Regions from separate parts of the Homo sapiens genome. Here regions 1 and 3 are each linked to region 2. The links come from fine-mapping of genetic effects on gene expression. A gene starts in region 2. Each other region holds a variant in brackets. All regions are shown on one strand. Distances are from middle to middle. Region 1 overlaps MAP4K3-DT (MAP4K3 divergent transcript). Region 2 holds the start of MAP4K3 (mitogen-activated protein kinase kinase kinase kinase 3). Region 3 overlaps MAP4K3-DT (MAP4K3 divergent transcript).

The links. PIP is the estimated chance that this variant, and not a neighbour inherited with it, causes the effect. A credible set is the group of variants that fine-mapping cannot tell apart.
Region 1: its variant is the best candidate, but not a certain one, in a credible set for the expression of MAP4K3 in subcutaneous fat (GTEx, PIP 0.89).
Region 3: its variant is the best candidate, but not a certain one, in a credible set for the expression of MAP4K3 in subcutaneous fat (TwinsUK, PIP 0.63).

What each region holds. Positions count from the first base shown.
Region 1 is chr2:39,534,323-39,540,543 of GRCh38, forward strand. All of the region lies in intron 5 of MAP4K3-DT (MAP4K3 divergent transcript), which reads left to right. Among named protein-coding and RNA genes, the nearest start is that of MAP4K3-DT, 100 kb to the left of the region's middle. The variant G/C (reference allele first, on the strand shown) is at 3,481.
Region 2 is chr2:39,434,427-39,440,647 of GRCh38, forward strand. MAP4K3 (mitogen-activated protein kinase kinase kinase kinase 3) reads right to left here and starts at 2,859. Exons shown (of 34, transcript NM_003618.4): 1 at 2,466-2,859. The coding sequence starts at 2,561. It overlaps MAP4K3-DT (MAP4K3 divergent transcript), which reads left to right and starts at 2,990. Exons shown (of 6, transcript NR_037875.1): 1 at 2,990-3,109. RefSeq lists an enhancer at 2,053-2,132 and silencers at 2,463-2,822, 2,893-3,112.
Region 3 is chr2:39,525,269-39,531,489 of GRCh38, forward strand. All of the region lies in intron 5 of MAP4K3-DT (MAP4K3 divergent transcript), which reads left to right. Among named protein-coding and RNA genes, the nearest start is that of MAP4K3-DT, 91 kb to the left of the region's middle. RefSeq lists an enhancer at 2,042-2,101. The variant G/A (reference allele first, on the strand shown) is at 2,600.

The DNA of each region.
Region 1 (6,221 bases), 100 kb after region 2:
ACACACCCAGCAAATGAAAGCCACAGTAGAGGGTAGATGAAATAAAGATACAAAGGCATAGATAGACTTCAATAATGATATAAAACAAGCTGCTTAGGACCAAATGCAAAATACAGATGCACTTGCTATGGCAAAGAGGAGCCGAATGACAGGATCATGTCAGTTAACCAAGGAGGGCTTCCTGCGAGAGGCATTGTTCTAAACACAGTTTTGAAGGTAATCTGAGAGAAGGGACCTGCCTAGGGAAAAAGAAGGAGGGCAATCCCTCTGGGATTATCTGTTCAACAAACTCTGCTTTTTCTCTTAATGATTCTGTTTCATCTGTCACACATATTTTTGCTGTGGTCTAAATAATTCAGACCACTCTGTCTGCGTAGATGTGATCTCTCAAGAATCCTTGTTTGGCTGTGCAGGTGTTTATAGTTTCACTAAAAAGTGTCTCATTTTTTTAAACATAGAGTGTGAATGTATAATGTGCAGATTTAATTCTGGGTAAAAATGCCAAGATGTGGACTACGCTGCCTCCTTCTAGTAATTACTCATTTCTGACAAAAAAGTAGGAGGCTTAATTTACCTCTAGGGCAATTTAAAAACACTATTGCCAGTTAATTCACTCCCAACCCCGTTTCCCAGACAGGTTTGTTTTTCCTTTCTTCTCTCAATCCTTGTTTTAAAAGTTGTATGTCTTTTCTGATTCATGGCTGTGTAGGCATTTAGTCAAAGTTAGTCTGGATAAAGTTAACACTTTCCTCTAAAGACAAATATGTTTTGTCTTTCTGGGAATATGATACTTAGAGAAGAGCTGTAGATTACATTCTATAAATGTGGACAAATTACATATGCATTCTATGCATGTCTCTATCAGTACCTTCCCCACGGGTAAGCGAAAAACTTTCTGTATCTATTAAAGCAGGAATTTAGATCCCATTCATGGGATTATAAATCGTTAATCTTCATGGATCCGATGGACAAAATGGTGGGTGGGGGAACCTCTTGTTGCTTCATAGAACCGGATGGCTCCACATCATTTTACTAAGAGGACTTAAAAGTTAGTTTCAAACAGCTGTCAGAATGATTCCCCCCTTTCTTAAGGCACTCATTAGAAAATAAAACCAGATATAATTAACAAACAAACAAACCTATCTGCCTGCTGTTCTAACTTGTTATAATAAGTGTTATTTCTACTTACAAACACTATCCTGTCAGCATCATGCTGTTTCTTTAATAAGACTTCTGCACTGGGGGGAAAAAAGGTTTGCATTAAACTTAAGTCTTGACTTGTCTCTATTCTATTCTTGCTCATCTGCATTCAGATCCAATTTGCTTCGAGGTTGAAAGGAACTAAAGTGTCTAAACCATCTCCAAGAGAGAGAGGAGGGACCTTTCTGCTCTTACAGTTGGATGAAGGATGGGGCTGCCCTGAGGCTTGCACAGACACCCTTATTTCCTTGCTGTTGGGCCTAGATGACCCCTGTAGCCAGCAGAGTAGGCAAAAACCCCTTCTGCTTCCTGGCGTTAATTTTCCAGGTGAATGACGATGTTTTCATATGCTTGATAAGTTCCAGAGGCTCATGTGAGTGGACAGATCTAGAGAGGACTTCGGCTCCAGAGCTCATCTGTGGTTTGGTAAGAGTGGCAAACTGAATGACAATAATTGGAGAGTTGCTGAGGTGGCAAATACAGCAGCAAAGATAATGCTATGTGATCGAAATGTTAGGGGCTTATGGTTTTTCTTCTTTGGATTCTTAAAATTAGTTTTTTTAATTCTGGAAAACTTCAAACATATACAAAACAAGACAAAATAAAAATAATGAACTCTCCCCAGATGCGGTGCCTCACGCCTGTAATCCCAGCACTTTGGGAGGCTGAGGCAGGTGGATCACCTGAGGTCAGGAGTTCAAGACCAGCCTGGCCAACATGATGAAACCCGATCTGTACTAAAAATACAAATATTGGCCTGGCATGGTGGTGCATGCCTGTAATCCCAGCTTACTCAGGAGGCTGAGGCATGAGAATCGCTTGAACCCGGGAGGCAAAGGTAGCAGTGAGCCAAGATCGCGCCACTGCACTCCAGCCTGGGCGATAGAGCGAGACTCCATCTCAAAAACAAAACACAACCAAACTATCATGCCATCACTCATTTTCCGTAATTATTTTCTGACATCTTGTTAACCTATATCCCTACTAATTTCTCCCTCCTGTATTATTTTTGAAGCAAATTCAAGACATCATATCATTTAATCTGTAAATATTTTAGTTTGTTTTTCTAAAAATTAAACACTTCTTTTTAAAAATGTAACAATATCACAAATACGCTTAAAAGTAGTTAATAATTAATTTCTTAATATAATCAAATATACTGTATTTAAATTTTCAGTTGTCTCATAAACAAATTTTTAAAATAGTTTCATCATGATTCAAGTAAAGTCCTACAATATGACTATTTGATATGTTTATTAAGTCTTTCTTTGCCCCTTTTCAAAATAAACTGTTTATTTTGGAATAATCATAGATTTACAGAAAAGTTGCAGACACAGTACAGAGAGTTCCTGTGTACTTTTCACCCAGTCCCCCTTATATTAGCATCTTACATAATTACTGCATACTTGTCAAAACTGAGGTAATCATTGGTACATTACTATTAACTAACCTATAGGCTTTATTCAGATTTCACTAGTTTTTCCCTTGATGCCACTTTTTTTCCAATTCAGGAGACCACAATACATTTATTAATAGTCATTATGATTCCTTAGACTCCTCTGATTTGTGCATTAGTCAGTCTTGTTTTTCATGAGCTTGACAATTTTGAAGAGTTCTGGTCAGATATTTTGTAGAAAGTCTCTCAATTTGGATTTGTCTGATGTTCTCTTATGATTAGACTAAGGTTATGGGTTTTGGGGAAGAATACCACTGATTCTTCGCATAGAATAAAGTTTCCTTCTCATGGCCTTGTATCTGGGGGTACAGAGTACATATCAACATGACTTTAAGTCTCTTTAATCCACCTCTCTATCTCTATCTCTTTCTCTTTCTTTTTTCCTAGTGCAAGTTACTTTCTGAGTCACTCGGGGTTTTTTGGTTGATAAAAGAAAAACTTAGCTGGGCACAGTGGCTCTTGCCTGTAATCCTAGCACACTGGGAGGCCAAGGCAGGTGGATCCCTTAAGCCAGGAGTTTGAGACCAGCCTGGGCAACATGGCAAAACCCCATCGCTACTAAAAATACAAAAATTAACTGTGTGTGATGGCACATGCCAGTAATCCCAGCTACTCGGGACGCTGAGGCAGGAGAATTGCTTGAACCTGGGAGGCAGAGGTTGCAGTGAGCTGTAATCGCGCCACTGCACTCCAGCCTGGGCGACAGTGAGACTTCGTCTCAAAAAAAAAAAAAAAAAAAACCAAGAAAAACTTCAACCAAGTTAAATTTAAAGGAGTTTAATTGAGCAATGAACAATTCGCGAATCGGGCAGCCTCCTGAGCCA[G/C]GGTAGGCTCAGGGGCGCAGCGCAGCCACGTGGTGGAACAAGATTTATGAACAGAAAAAGGAAAGTGATGTACAGAAAATGGAAGTGAGGTATGGAAACAGCTGCATTGGTTACAGCTCGGCATTTGCCTTATTTGTACATGGTTGAACTGTTAGCTACATTGGATTGGCCAAAACTTGGTGACTGGCACAAGTGTAGGCTATGGTCTGGTTACACCTCCACTTGTTATAGTTCACAATGTACAGAAAAACCTTTAGGCTGAACTTAAAATATGTAAGCAGAGAGCTTTAGGCTGAACTTGATTTAACATGGTTTTATTTTGTTTTTAACAAATAGAGGCCATGATGACTGTTTAGGCTGAGTAATGGAGGCCTCTGCTCCAAGGGCAGGCTGCTTTTCAAACAGTTGCCATCTCAGTAATTTTTATCCATTTGCATCTCACAACATCACAAGACAGGTTTACATAAAAGTCCAGGTTACCCTGCAGGCTGCGTGGTAACCTTTGATTTTAGGTTGATACTGGAGAGAAGGTCCGAGAAGAAGCCATCCTTAACAGGAAATACATTAAAAAAATTCTTTGAAACTGGTTCCTGTGTCATTGAAAGGCTTGGGTAAGAACACACACATGGCTGGGCATGGTGGCCCATGCCTGTAATCCCAGCACTTTGGGAGGCCGAGGTCAGCAGATCACCTGAGGTCAGGAGTTCGAGGTCAGCCTGACCAACATGGCAAAACCCCGTCTCTACTAAAAATTCAAAAATTAGCCACACCTGGTGGTGGGCACCTATAATCCCAGCTACTCGGGAGGCTGAGGCAGGAGAATCACTGGAACCTGGGAGGTGGAGGCTGCAGTGAGCCGAGATTGTGCCATTGCATTCCAGTCTAGGCAACAGAGCAAGACTCTGTCTCAAAAAATAAAAAATAAATAAAAAGGACATATATCCATATCCCCTGTAGAGGTATGTATTATTGATATTAGAAAGAGAATACACTGTCTTAGTCCATTTTTGTGTTAGCTGTGACTGGGTAATTTGTTAAAAAAAAAAAAAAGAGGTTTATTTGGCTCATGATTCTGGTGGCCAAAAAGTCCAAGGTGGGGCAGCTGCATCTGGTGAGGTTCTCATGCTGCTTTGACTCATAGCAGACAATGAAAGGGGAGCAGGCATGTGCAAAGAGATCACATGGCAAGAGAGGAAGCAAGAGGGGAAAACTGAAGAAGCCAGACTCTTTTTTAACAGCCTGTCCTGGAGGAAACTAATCCATTCACACAAGAATGAGAACTCATTCACCCCTGTGGAAGGGCATTAATCTATTCATAAGGGATCCACCCCCCATGACCCACGACTCCCTCTAGGTTCCACCTCACAACATTGCCACATTGGGGATCAAACTTCACCATGAGTTTCAGCAGGGACAAAGCACATCCAAACCATAACATACACCAAGACTTCAGGAAATTCTTATAAATGGACACTGGGGATGATTAAAATCTTCTGACATTGGCTCTGACTAACCAGAGTCCTCAAGTTTTCACATGGCAGGATAATAGCACAAGCAAAGGAAGAAAAAAAAAAAACACAATTGTCTCCCTCATGACCACAGTGCTTTACTTTTTCCCGTGTGTCTTTGCCTGTATTACCTAATGTCATTGTTGAAGTACTTGCCTTAGTAGGAAGTATCACCTTTGCTCTGATAAGGAAACTGAGAAGGCTGAGAGAGGTCCTATAGCTTTGTCAGATGGCCAGTTATGGCTGGAACTGGGGTTAGGATACAGGTGTCCTTCCTTTGCATGCTGTTGTCAGGTAAGATTCAGGCAGATGCCATCCAGGATCAACCTTTGAAGGCTTTTTGATATCAAAATATCAAACATCTCAGGATGAATGATTAAAATTAGAATTTAATGGTATAGCCCCAAGCTTCTCATAGTGGACAGCTCAAATGTTGATTTGGAAGACTTGTGCTCTAAATCTGGCTTAGTGTTGCTATACCAATAGATACCTTCAATAGCAATCCTCTTTTGTTTTGACTACTGGGGTTCAGGCAGCAGCTCTGATCCTCTCAGCACATGGTCTTGGTCAGGAGGATGAATAACTGGCCATGTCTTATTACAATTTGTTCCTGGAGGTGCTCCTTGGCTTCCAGCCTCCCCAGAGCAGGGTCACACTTGGAGCCCACATAGCCCAGCATTCTGGAGCAGAATGGTACTTCTGAATCCAGCCCTTGGTAGCTCTCATCATAAATGTGGAAGCACATTTGTAATTGCAAAATATGCAAGGCAAGGGGATGGAGAGAGAAAAAAGAGTGATTCACCAAGGCTCTCCTGCAAGAAAAATCCAGCATTGAAACATACCTTGACATCTCAGATACAATGTCTACTTCTGGTAATGAAGATGCTGACACCAGAGTGCTACTGTGATGGGGTCCTCTTATTAACAGAGCCATGATTGTAATATGGGTGAAAAGCTCAGGCTAATGAGGGTGACTTTGAATATACCCTTGGTTTTACAAGAAGGATCTATTGCTCTTTCCCCTTGCTTGGTCCATGGGCAGGCAGCGGAGTTTAATGATGCTTCACACACAGTGTGCCTCCACCGTGGTAAGGCATTTCAAGGAAACTCTAGTTGGGCTTTTGCATTGTTGGACCATTAATATTTTTAATGGTGACAATAAAAGCTGGAAGAACTCAAATCTCAGCAAGGGTTTTCAAGAGGCAGTATAATAATGAGGCAAGCTGAGCCCTG
Region 2 (6,221 bases):
GGCAGGCAGGGACCAAGCATCTATTATCTGATATCCACTTGGCAGACTACATAAACAGTGAGACCTTGTGGCACAGCAGGAATTAGGTATTCCAACTACTACTTAAAGATCTACACTGACTCAGAGTGTGGCTACAACTCAAATGCTAAACTAAATGTGTGCCTCAGTTTCTCCACTGGAAATGTAATACATTATCTGCCCATCTCCTATCTTTAGAGAGGCAGCACTGCCAATTGGTTAAGAATACAGTCCCTAATTGGTTCAAATTTTGGCTTTGCCACCTACCAACTTTGGCAAGTTAATCTCCTTGTGCCTCAGTTTATTCAACTGCAAAATGGAGTTAACAATAGCACCTATCTCACAGGGTTGCTGTTAGGATTAATTAGAAAAATCTTATAGTGCCTGGCAAGTAACAAGCATTCCATAAACATCAGCTAGTATTATCATTATTTTAAACGAATGACAAGATTAACCAACTTAGTATACCTCTATTACACTTAGGAAATTACAGGCCCTAATTTTTTTTTGCTTTTTAATCATGTGGCTTAACTACTAACTGTTCTTTTTAATATAGCAAGTACACAGCCAATTAGTCCTGTAAAAAAATTCACTGTATACCCTGCCACCTAAAACGTATACATTCATCGAGTTTTAGTTAACTTTTCATCGCAATATAAGCGAACTCCCCCAACCAGTCATAAGTGACTTGCATCCATCCACTTCTACTTTCACAGTCATCACCATATTCCTTAACACCATTATTCTTACCTAGACTATCACAGTGGCCTCCCAACTGCTCCATTCCACTCTTCATGCTGTAGTAGGGAGCTCTTTTAAAAACCTAAATCTAATGTCACTCCTCTGCTTAAAAGCCTGCAATAGTTCCCCATTGTCCTAAACAAGTCCGATCTCCTAATGAGAACTAAGAGGCCTGCAAGATCTAGGGCCACCCTCCCGCTCTGGCTGCTCAGGCTATACAGGCCTTCTTTCACATCGGGCCTCAGAGCCTTCACATATCATGCTCCCCTATCTGGCGTAATCCCCTCTCCCCAGTACCCTAAGCAACGCCTAATCATCTCTGAGATCTCAGCTGAAAGGCGATGAGCGTCTGATACCCTAAACAGGATCAGGTCCTCCTATTACATGCTCTCATAACCCTGATCCTAATACTCTTTTCTGCATCACAAAATTAAACGGCAATAATTATTTAAATGGCTATTTAATACTGTCCTTGTCCAAAAAAATAGAAACACTTAGGAAGATTTGGAACCAAGTCTATCGTTTACTGCTACAACCCAAAGTGCTTACTTGCCAAGTATCTCATACATTGTAGGTGGGCTCAATATATCTATATTGCATAGTAGGAAAAGTGATGAGATCCACGATGGTGAAAAGTAGATCATCCAGAAAATCAGACTAAAGCAGAACACTGGCTGCACTGTATTAAATATGTAAGTTACCACAGGCATTACACTGAAGAGTAAAAACCTGCTTAAACATGGGCAAAATAAAGTTAAGACTGAACTTTCCAATGCAAAATTAAGTTTCTTTGTGCATCCTCAGGTGTTATGTGAAACTGGAGGAGTTCAACTTCAGTTACCAGTAAGAAGATACACAACTAAATCAAGACTGCTGCCACATTTGGCAACAACCTCCTCTCTTCTTGGCAGTAACTGTGAGGCCAAGAGTTGAGTTGGCCAGGGAAGAGTGATTTATCTTCCCACATTTAGAAGTGGTCCCTCTACAACAGGAATGCTGTACCGCTACTGGACTTTGAATTCTAACCTTGTCAAACCAGTACCTTCCCTAAGTATTCAAGTCACTTTTTAAAAAACAAGTTTAAATGGCATCGCAGTCCAATTCGACTTAGAGAAAACAAAGTTGCTCTTTCCAAAAAAAAAAAAAAGTCATTACTCTGGAAAATTAAAAGAAACTGACAGGGGGATGAATAAGGCGCTAAAGGCTGAGAGCTGTCGATGGAAGATGGAGGTCGCTCAGCATAGTATAATAACTACCACCGAGGCCTGGTGGGCAGCAGCTCCCAACCTAGAGCGGACGACCCCAGGTTGGCGTGAAGCAGGCAGGTTTGACAACACCAGACCCCTGCTGTCCGGTTCGTCGCGCTGACCCTGCCAACGCAACAAACGCCCAGACCTTCTCTGCACTATGGATGAGCAGTGTGGCCTGCTCTCGTTCTGCCCTTCCCTGGAAATGCGCGCAAGAAGGGAGGTGGCAAAAATCATGTCCACCGGGGGGGCTCAGGTAAGGGCTGGGGAGGTCTCGGGGTTAAACATTCGGCCCTTTGTTCACCAAGGCAGCAGAGCCCTTGGCGTCCGCAGCTCCTCCTCCCCGACTGCTCCCTGGCGCCAGCGTCTCCCGAGGACAGGCGGCAAGGGCTCGGACGCCCAGGCTTGGCTGCGGGTCGGGATCCCACGGCCTCGGCGGCGCGCGGCCCCTGCCTTTACCTTGTAGACGTCGCCGTAGGTGCCGCTGCCGATGCGCTGAATCAGCTCGAAGTCCTCCTGCGGGTTCCGGCGGGACAAATCGAAGCCGGGGTTCATGGCGGGCCCCAGGTGCCCCCCGCCTCCCTCCCGGGCAGGGGAGGGGGGCCGCTCAGGGGGCCACACGGAGAGAGGGCGCCGCGGCCGGCTCCCGGCTCCCCCGGCGGTCACAATCACCCGGCTCCACGCTGCGGCCGCCGCCGCCGCCGCCGCTCCCCTCACGCCGCTGCGGACGACGACAAGCGGCCAATCGTCCCCGCCCCCCGCGGCCCGCCGCCGCGCCGAACCTGGTCACACCCACAAGGAGAGGAGAACCCTCGCAGCCCCTCGCTCGGGGTGAAACTCCAACATGGCTTCCGCTTTCGCCGCTCCTCCCCCTCCCCTTACTCCGGCTCCTCCAACCTCCTCCCCTTTTCCCGACTCCCGCCCGACTGCGCAGCCGCGATCCCGGAGGGAGCGCGCCAGGCCTGGCGCGCACCCGACCCCTTGCGCGTTCCGGCTCCGCGCGCCTGCCAGGCCGGGGCCGGCGGCGGAACAGCTTGGGACCCGAAACGCCTCGGCTTTTCTGCGGACCCGCGCCCGGCCGCTGCCGCCGGACGCTTGAAAAGGTTTGCCTGGCCCAGGGACCGGGGTTAGGACTAGCAGAAAGTGGCTTCTTTTCGTTTCTGATTCCCCTAACGACAAAGTTGGACCTTGGTCTATCTGGTCCCAGTTCCAAGCAGGTAGCATAGTGGTAATATCCAAGACAGCCAATGTCCCAGCCTTTATTATTTTAGAAGCAGCTACATGTAGGATACCATGGAGTGCTGCAGCCTTTCTGGGATTGCGGGGAGGGGTCACTAAACACACCGTGAGGAAAACCCCCAGGAAAAGTGAGCTGTGCTTGCTTGCCCCTGTCACCGACACTCGGACCCTTGGAGTTGGCCTGCCAGGGTGCAAAGGAGGGCAGGCCAGGAGGGCCGCGAGGGAGGTGTGTGCAGTGGGCAGAGCGTGAAAGCTCCGGGAGGAAAACACGCGGAACAGCTGCCCACCATCCCGCGTGGGAGGCAGGCAGAGCGCAGAACTAAAGCAGTGATTGACCTCCCTCTTCGAAGAGGGTTGGATTATCAAAGACGGGCGGGGACTGCGCAGGCTGTCAAGCAACCCTGTAAAGAAGGGGTGGAGAGTGGACTAGATCTATTACCGCACCTGAAATATAAACACGTGACGATCCGGAAGCTCTTTAGCTGTGACCTTACCTACCCAAAAACCCCACCCTGCTTAAGACCCAGATTGCGCGTCTTACATCTGAGCTATGTGGACTCCAGCTCCGATTGTTAATACTTGCCCAAGAAAGCTTGAGGGTAATGGAAGGTTATTTTTCTGTTCTCATTGAACTTCCCAATAGACATTTGCAGGAGCTTTAATCAATTAGGTGATGGCCACTTTGGCAATACCACGTTGGAGTTTTGCTTCAGAAATGCTTTCCTAATCCCCTTAGGCACCACACCTTCTAACCACTAATATTCCCTAATACCTCGTGGCTCCTGAGAAACTAGGTCTCATCAAACCTGTTAAGGATAAGTATAATAAATTAATAGTAGAGCAAACTACTTAGAGTTAACTGCTTCATACTTTTTCAAAAAATCTTTTGAATCCTTTTGCTCATAGGAAAATTGCATATGTACTAAATTCTCAAATTGTTTACTTTGAGTATCTGTTGACTAAATTGATGTTTGAAAATGGTTATCTCTTCACCTATATAAGTAGCCTTTCAGTTGTGTAATTTTTAATTATTAAATTTTAAAGCATCAGTAATATGAAAGTATCACTTAAATTATTGCCTTAGGAGTGCATATCATTGAATATCTTCTCGATGGATCTACCTTCAGGCTCTGGTATCTTGAGAAACTCCTGACTATAAATGTTATTCCATAGCCAAAGGTCTTGCTTTTGCTTGTTTAAGGTACTTGCCCAGGACCCAGATTACAGGCCTTCCTTCAGTTTGTCCACATTTGGAGAATTGTTTGGCATGTTTAGGCCAAGCGCAAGAATAATTAGCCAAGGATTCAGATAAGCAGACCTGACAAATTATCCCAAATGGAAGCCAGGTCTGCTCTTTTCCTCTGCCTTTTTTTTTTTTTTTTTTTTGAGAAGGAGTTTCGCTCTAGTTGTCCAGGCTTGAGTGCAAGGGTGCAATCTCAGCTCACTGAAACCTCTGCCTCCCGGGTTCTTAGCGATTCTCCTGCCTCAGCCTCCCAAGTAGCTGGGATCACAGGCATGCAACACCACACCCAGCTAATTTTTGTATTTTTAGTAGAGATGGGATTTCTCCTTGTTGGTCAGGCTGCTCTTGAACTCCCGACCTCAGATGATCCGCCTGCCTCGGCCTCCTGAAGTGGTGGGATTACAGGCATGAGCCACTGCACCCGGCCTCTGCCTTTTTAGTGCCAGAAAGCCAAATTCTCAGGACTGAAAGCTGCACAAGAAAGTTCTAATGACTTCAGTGTTTTGTTTGCTGAGATTATCGTCTGTCCAAATAACTTTGCATTTGCATCACTAATAGACTGCTTTCAAAAGGAAAAGACATTTCAGTAGGGCTAGAACAGTCTTTAAAGTTTTGTCTGTTCCATTTTGGCAGGGCCAAGCTAGTCCTTTTGAGAAGAGATGAATTTCCATGTAAGGGCCTGATTTGCCATGTGGGTTACAACATAAGTAAAACAACTGCTCACAAAGAAAATATTTTGTTTTTTGTAATATATGCATGTGGCCAATTCCAGTGCCTTTTCCCCCTGTTCTAACAATCCTCAGTTTTGCTAGAAGTAACACTAATGATCACACTTTCCTAGAATCAGAGAAAGAGCTTCCCTCTTCTATGATTAGAAGCATTCTTAGAAGTCATCTAATCTTTTTAACTCAGGAACTGCTTCTACAGCATCTCTGCTGGATTTGCTGCTGCTTGAATACTTTCAATAAAAGGTGACTCATTGCTTCCCAAAACAACCCACCTCGTTGTGATACAGTGCTAGTAAATGATCATAATAACTAGGAGAAAAGTAGTAATTTCTAACATTGCTAAGTGCTTACAAGATACCAGGAATGGAGCCAAGTATTTTTCATGTGTTATTTCATTTAATTCGCACAACAACCTAATGACATAGGTAATATTATCTCCATTTTATGAGGCACAGACAGATTAAACTGCTCAAGGTAACACAGAAGGCTGAAATTTGAACAAAGGCAGTATGACACCAAGGCTAGATTCTTAGCCACTAGTCTATACTCTGCTTATATACAATATACTGTAAAAAATTTCTCTTATGGTAAGCCAACCTCTACCTCCCTGTAATGTATTTAGAGGCAATGATTATTAGATTCTGGTGGTATTGAATACAGAAAAGAAAAGCCACAATGCCTTCCCTCAAGGAGTTGACAGTCTCATAAATAGTGTGAGAAGCACAGAGAAGGGACATTAATGCAGACGGGAGGAAGATTTAGGAATGACCCCTTGGCTGGGCGCAGTGGCTCATGCCTGTAATCCCAACACTTTGGGAGGCCGAGGCGGGTGGATCACCTGAGGTCAGGAGTTCAAGACCAGCCTGGCCAACATGGTGAAACCCCATCTCTACTAAAAATACAAAAATTAGCTGGGCGCGGTGGCACGTCCCCTGTAATCACAGCTACTCGGGAGGCTGAGGCAGGAGAATCACTTGAGCCGGGAGGTGGAGGTTGCAGTGAGCT
Region 3 (6,221 bases), 91 kb after region 2:
TCACAAGGGATTGTGGGTGTCTCAGGACACTGTGTCTCAGTTAATGGCTTTATGCCATGTGGGCATTCTACCTTTTTGAAGACACTGGAAACTTGGACCGAAACCAACTCCAAATTCTTCATTCTGGGTGAGATGAGCCCCAGCTAGAGATGCAGCTCAGTTTCCTCATTTGCAAAATAGAATGGTGTGGGGAAGTTATTTTGTGTCCTTGAATAAGGAAACATGGTTCATATCATTTCCTCAGAGAGTGGCTGGTCTGGATTTCAACTCAGAAGAGGTCTGTGGGAAATCACATGGGGCTGCTGCAATTTCTATTTTGGGCAGAGACCTTATCTCTGAGATATCCGAGCTGGGATTTCTTTAGTGATACCTTACCAACTTCTCACAAATACTTCACTCGGAACCCTAAACCTGGGGAGCACCACGGAGTCTTTGACCCCAACTGCTTCACTCTCCATCAGTATTTGCATAATGTCAACACAGTTCTCACCATTTGTGACCACCTTTTGACCAGGCAATTCTACCTGCCTCATGTCCCTAGCCAAAAGGCTAGTCCCCTTTGTCATCTATTCTTTTTCAGTTCCTTGCCCATGTACTGCACTCTCACTCTCTCATTATGTTTTCATGTTTAATCTCTGCTCCTCAACTGGATTCTGTTTGCCAGATTTAAAGTGTACACAAGGCTCCCACTGGCGGGTGGGGTGGGGGAGTGGAGATAACTCTACCCCAAGCATACCTTCCCCTCAAGCTTTCATATTCTCTTCTCCCCTTTACAGAGACTTCTAGAGAGAACATCTATACTTGTTGACTCTTTTTACTTCCTGCTCACTCCTTAGGTCACTGCCAGGCTGGCTCCTACCTCATGAGCTCGACAAACAGCTTGTGCCAGGGTCACTCACCTTCCTTCACATCTCAGCAGTGGTCAACACTGTTGACTGTCCCTCCTCCTCGAAACACTGTATTTTTTTGTCTTCAGTGACGCAAGGCTCTTTTGTTTACCTTCATCTTCTCTGACTGCTCATTTTCTATCTCTTTTGCAGTCTTATCCTATGCTCCCCGGGTCAATACATATTAAAATACTCAAGGCCCAGTCCTAGATAGTCTTGTCTTTTTTTGTTTGTTTGTTTTGATATGGAGTCTGGCTCTGTCACCCAGGCTGGAGTGCAGGCTCACTGCAATCTCTGCCTCCTGGGTTCAAGCGATTCTCCTGCCTCATCCTCCTGAGTAGCTGGGATTACAGGTGCATGCCACCACGCCTGGCTAATTTTTATATTTTTAGTAGAGATGGGGTTTCACCATGTTGGCTAGGCTGTTCTCAAACTCCTGACCTCAAGTGATCTGCCCACCTCAGCCTCCCAAAGTGCTGGGATTATAGGTGTGAGCCACTGCACTTGGCCGTCTTCTTTTCTTATTCTATACTTCGTTCATGGCAAAAATGTTTCTCCAGCCCAGGTCTCTTCTTTGAGCTTTAGATCCATGTATCCAATTTCCTACCTAATACTTTCATCTGGAAGTTTCACATGCATCTAAAACACAACATAGCCAAAACCAAACTCTTGATTAATCCAAAACCTTTTGCTGTTCCCTATGTCACCCGCATTGTTAAGCAGGCCAGAACTTGGAGTCACCATGACCTTTCCCTCTGCCTTACCCTTCACATTCAATTTTGCTTCCTAAACCTCTTTGAATCTGTACTTTTTTCCCTACTTCCACTCCCACTATCCTAGTCTAAGCTACCTTCACCTCTTCCTGGATAACCTTAAAAGCCTCTTTATTGGTCTATCTGCCACTGTTTTGACCTCCACCTCCCACAATGTATGCTGAGTGAGTTCTTCATCTGATTTTCATGTCTTCCCTGAGATGTTTAAAATGTTTGCATGCCCTCCCATGATTTTAGGATGCAACATTCCTTAACATGACCATAGGCCCTGTACCTAGCCAGCTTTAGATCAAACCATGCTCTGCTTTGCTCTCTTTACTCCAACCACTGTGGCCTTCTTTCACTTCTTTTTTTTTTTTTTTTGAGATGGAGTCTCGCTCTGTCACCCAGGCTGGAGTGCAGTGGTGCGATCTCTGCTCACTGCAAGCTCCGCCTCCCGGGTTCACGCCATTCTCCCGCCTCAGCCTCTGCAGTAACTGGGACTACAGGCGCCTGCCACCACGCCCAGCTAATTTTTTGTATTTTTAGTAGAGACAGGGTTTCACTGTGTTAACCAGGATGGTCTCAATCTCCTGACCTTGTGATCCACCTGCCTCAGCCTCCCAAAGTGCTGGGATTACAGGCGTGAGCCACCGCGCTCGGCCTCTTTCAGTTCTTTTTACCTGCCACGCTTCCTCTCACCAACTGCTCTTTGTCCAGAATGCACTTACTTCTGTAAGTTTCACCCTTTCTTCAAATCTCAGCTCAGTTATGGCTTCCTCAGGGCTGTCTTTCTTGACCTCTCTGACCAGGGCAACTCTCTACCATATGGCCCTGGGTACTTCTCCTTCAGGTGCTGATCACAACTGTCATTTTATGTTTCTTGGTGTCATTTTTTGGTTGAAATATATTTCCCACTGAATATGACTCCATTAGGGCAGGAACTGTGCCTGGTTTCCG[G/A]GGCTTAGAACCAGTACAGTGCCTAGTGCATAGTAAGTGCTCAGTAAATGCATTTGTTGAATGAATGAACAAATAAATACATCAATAAGTACAGACGTTTGTTTTCTGTATTCCTTTGGCTCCTTCTTCTTCTTCTTCACCCTACCCTTTGTCCAGGCCTTGGGACTTCAAATCATGGATTTTTTTTTTTTTCTTGAGTCAGAGTCTTTCTCTATCGCCCAGGCTGGAGTGCAGTGGTGCGATCTCAGCTCACTGCGACCTCCGCCTCCCAGGTTCAAGCGATTCTCCTGCCTCAGCCTCCCGAGTAGCTGGGACTACAGGCACCCGCCACCATGCCCGGCTAATTTTTTGTATTTTTAGTAGAGATGGGGTTTCACCATGTTAGCCAGGATGGTCTTGATCTCCTGACCTCGTAATCTGCCCGCCTTAGCCTCCCAAAGTGCTGGGATTACAGGCGTGAGCCACCGCACCTGGCCAAATCATGGATTTGGTTTATATGTCCAGTGCCACCACTGGGCCTGCTTCCTATTCTGGGTAATGAAATGTATGAGATGCTGAGTAGCTTTTGGACACTTCCTTTGTAATATATTTTGCTCTCCTGCAATAATTTTGTTATTATCAGGGTTCTATTCAGGAGTACAGGCTTAGGTAATAAGACAGTGCCACCTGAGGAAGGGTGCTCCTTGACTTAGAACAATAAGATAATGAAATTGGAGGTAACTTTTGGTAATCATTTAGTCTAGTTTCTCAAGCAAGGCAGAGATTCTTTATGTACCACTTCTGACAGATGATAATAATGTTTATTGAGCATAGTCCAGTTATTGTCTTAAGGATATTGATACAGATGAATCCTTTTAATCCTTAGCGACCATATGGACAAATACAGTTACTATCATGCCCTTTTTATAGCTGACGAAATAGTGGAATGCCTCATCTAAGACCATGCCTCGTCTAAGTCAGTAGCATAGCCAAGGTGCAAGCCCAGGCAGTTTGGCAGAGCCAGAGATTTTCACTGCTATGCTATGCTATGCTGTGCTGTGCTGTGCTGTGCTGTGCTGTGCTGTGCTGTGCTGTGCTGTGCTGTGCTATGCTATGCTATGCTATGCTATGCTATGCTATGCTATGATATGCCACTTCTGTAGTTAGCCAACGGTTATGTAAACACTTCCAGGGATGGGAACCCACTCGATGGTGAGCTGAGTACTTAGGCTAAAATTGTCTCCTATAACTTCAAGCCGTTTTCCCTAGTTTCAGCCTCTAAAACTATATGAAATAGCCTGCTCCAATGTCCATAGGACAGTTATTAAAATAGGACAGTTATTAAAATACTTTCAAATTCTAAGAGTAGTTTTTCTGTTCATAAAAATAACATATGTGAAAATTTGGAAAATCCAGAAAAGTATAAAGAAGATAAGAACCCTTGATAAACTGGGAGAAAATAAGTATTAACTGCCAAGAGTCTATTAGCTTTTTGTTATAATTTTTAACATTCATATTTCATTAATGGCCCATATAAAATCTGTGGCCTACCAAAACACCTAGTTCTCTGTCAGATGACCTTCCATCAAGCCAGATTTTGTCTCTATATAAAATTCTCTCTCTCTGTCTTTTTGTTTGAGACAGAGTCTTACAGGCTGAGTGGTCTTTAAATCATGGATTTGGTTTATACATCCTGATACAAAGACAGAGTCTTATAGACAGGGTCTTACAGTCTTACAGGCTGGAGTGCAGTGGTGCAATCTTGGCTCACTGCAACCTTCATCCCCCAGGTTCATGCAATTCTCCTGCCTCCTGAGTAACTGGGACTACAGGCGTGCACCACTATGCCTGGCTAATTTTTGTATTTTTAATAGAGATGGGGTTTTGCAATGTTGGCCAGGCTGGTCTCGAACTCTTTGCCTCAAGTGATCTGCCTTCCTCGGCCTCCCAAAGTGCTGGATTTACAGGTGTGCACCACTGTGACCAACCATAAAATTCTTAATGTAAAATTTTACACTTATCCCTTTTAAATTATATTTATTTGTTTGTTTTGATTCTTCTGTCTTACTGAAAACTTTTCTAATCCAGATTCTGCTTTCTAATGTTAGCCTTCCAGCTTCCAAGATACTATGTGATCTTGATAACAGGGCTTTTCAAACCTTTCCCCCAGGCATTGCTAAAATGCTAAGCCCTGTGACACATACTAGGAACCTCCCTGTAGGTTCACATGGGTCTATTCGTCAGCCATTAATTTGGCCACTGAAGAAAATACAAATCTGTATAACTGCATTTTCACTGAGCACATATATATTTTTTTCACCTTTTCTATGATGATTTCATGACTTAATGAAATATGTCACCAAAATTGGGTATGTTTCATCTATGGAATTTCTCAACTTTACTGGTATAGTAAGTCTTTTTAAAAATAGGATATCGTTTTCTTAGTTAGCTTACACTAACTCTGAATAATCACTTCTTAATTTCTAAGTGTTCACAAATCATTATCTAAATATTAATACTTCATTCTAGAACTTTCCTGGAAATCATACCAATCTGTTACTTCAACTCTTCACTGCAGTTGAAATAGCTATGTGCAGACATACTGGCCCTGACTCACATTTAATGGGGCTGAAGAAATGATCCCGTGGGTATTCTTTCTCCTTCAGGAGATCAGCTTCCTGTCAACATACAGGAAACTGAAAAGCTGCAGTCTAATAATATAGCCACTGACAGGAAGATTGTTGTTTAGATTGCCTTTCCAGATTTCTCAATTGAATAATGCTGGTGAAGGATGACTGCTTATTTTATTTATGACTTTGGATCAACTACAAGGATATCTGACTTTACATAGTAGATGTGCTGCTTCAATGATGCATATAAACCACTTTTTTTGTAAGTCAAATTCCACCTAAAATGTACTAATCTGGGAGTTTACTTTTAAGGCCATCTTGTGGTGAGACATTTTATAAAGTGAAGAATTCTTTACTGATTTATCTGTTTGCTTGGATTTTAAAGATCAGGGTTGCTTAAAGCAAGGTGAAATTATACTATTTCTTTATTTTTAGAAAAAGTAGGCTAGCATTATCTTTTGTGAATGTCACCTTGAGCAAACAGGACTGGGAAGATCTTGGCCAGGCAGCCTGCAAATGAGTAAAAACCAGAGCCTCCACGCTAAGCCACATTCTCACCTCGCAATTCTCTGATGCACTCCTGCCGATGAAGGACTGCTTCCGTGATTGATATTTTTTCATTTTTCAATATCCTCAATCAATAGCTGAAAAAGAATTCTATTTACTCATCTTCTCTGAGAGTCCTCCTCTCACTCAGCTGTCAGAGGCAGGGCAGGTGGCTCCCTGGTGAGGCTTCAGTTATACTTTATGTGTTCTTCCCTTCCTTGGATTGGAGCTGTGTGAAGGCCAGAACCTCAGCTTGTTCACCTCTGTATCTCCATTAAACTAGCCCGAGCCTTCTGTGAAATGGGTTCTCACTACACATTCATAGACTCAATGCTGACTCCCAAACTTGAGCTGGAACCAACTGCAGGTGATATGATGGGCTCACTCCATCTCCACCAAGGGGACTGCAACAGTGTGGAGTGTGTGTGTCTTAGTCTGTTGGTGCTGCTATAACAAAATACCATAGA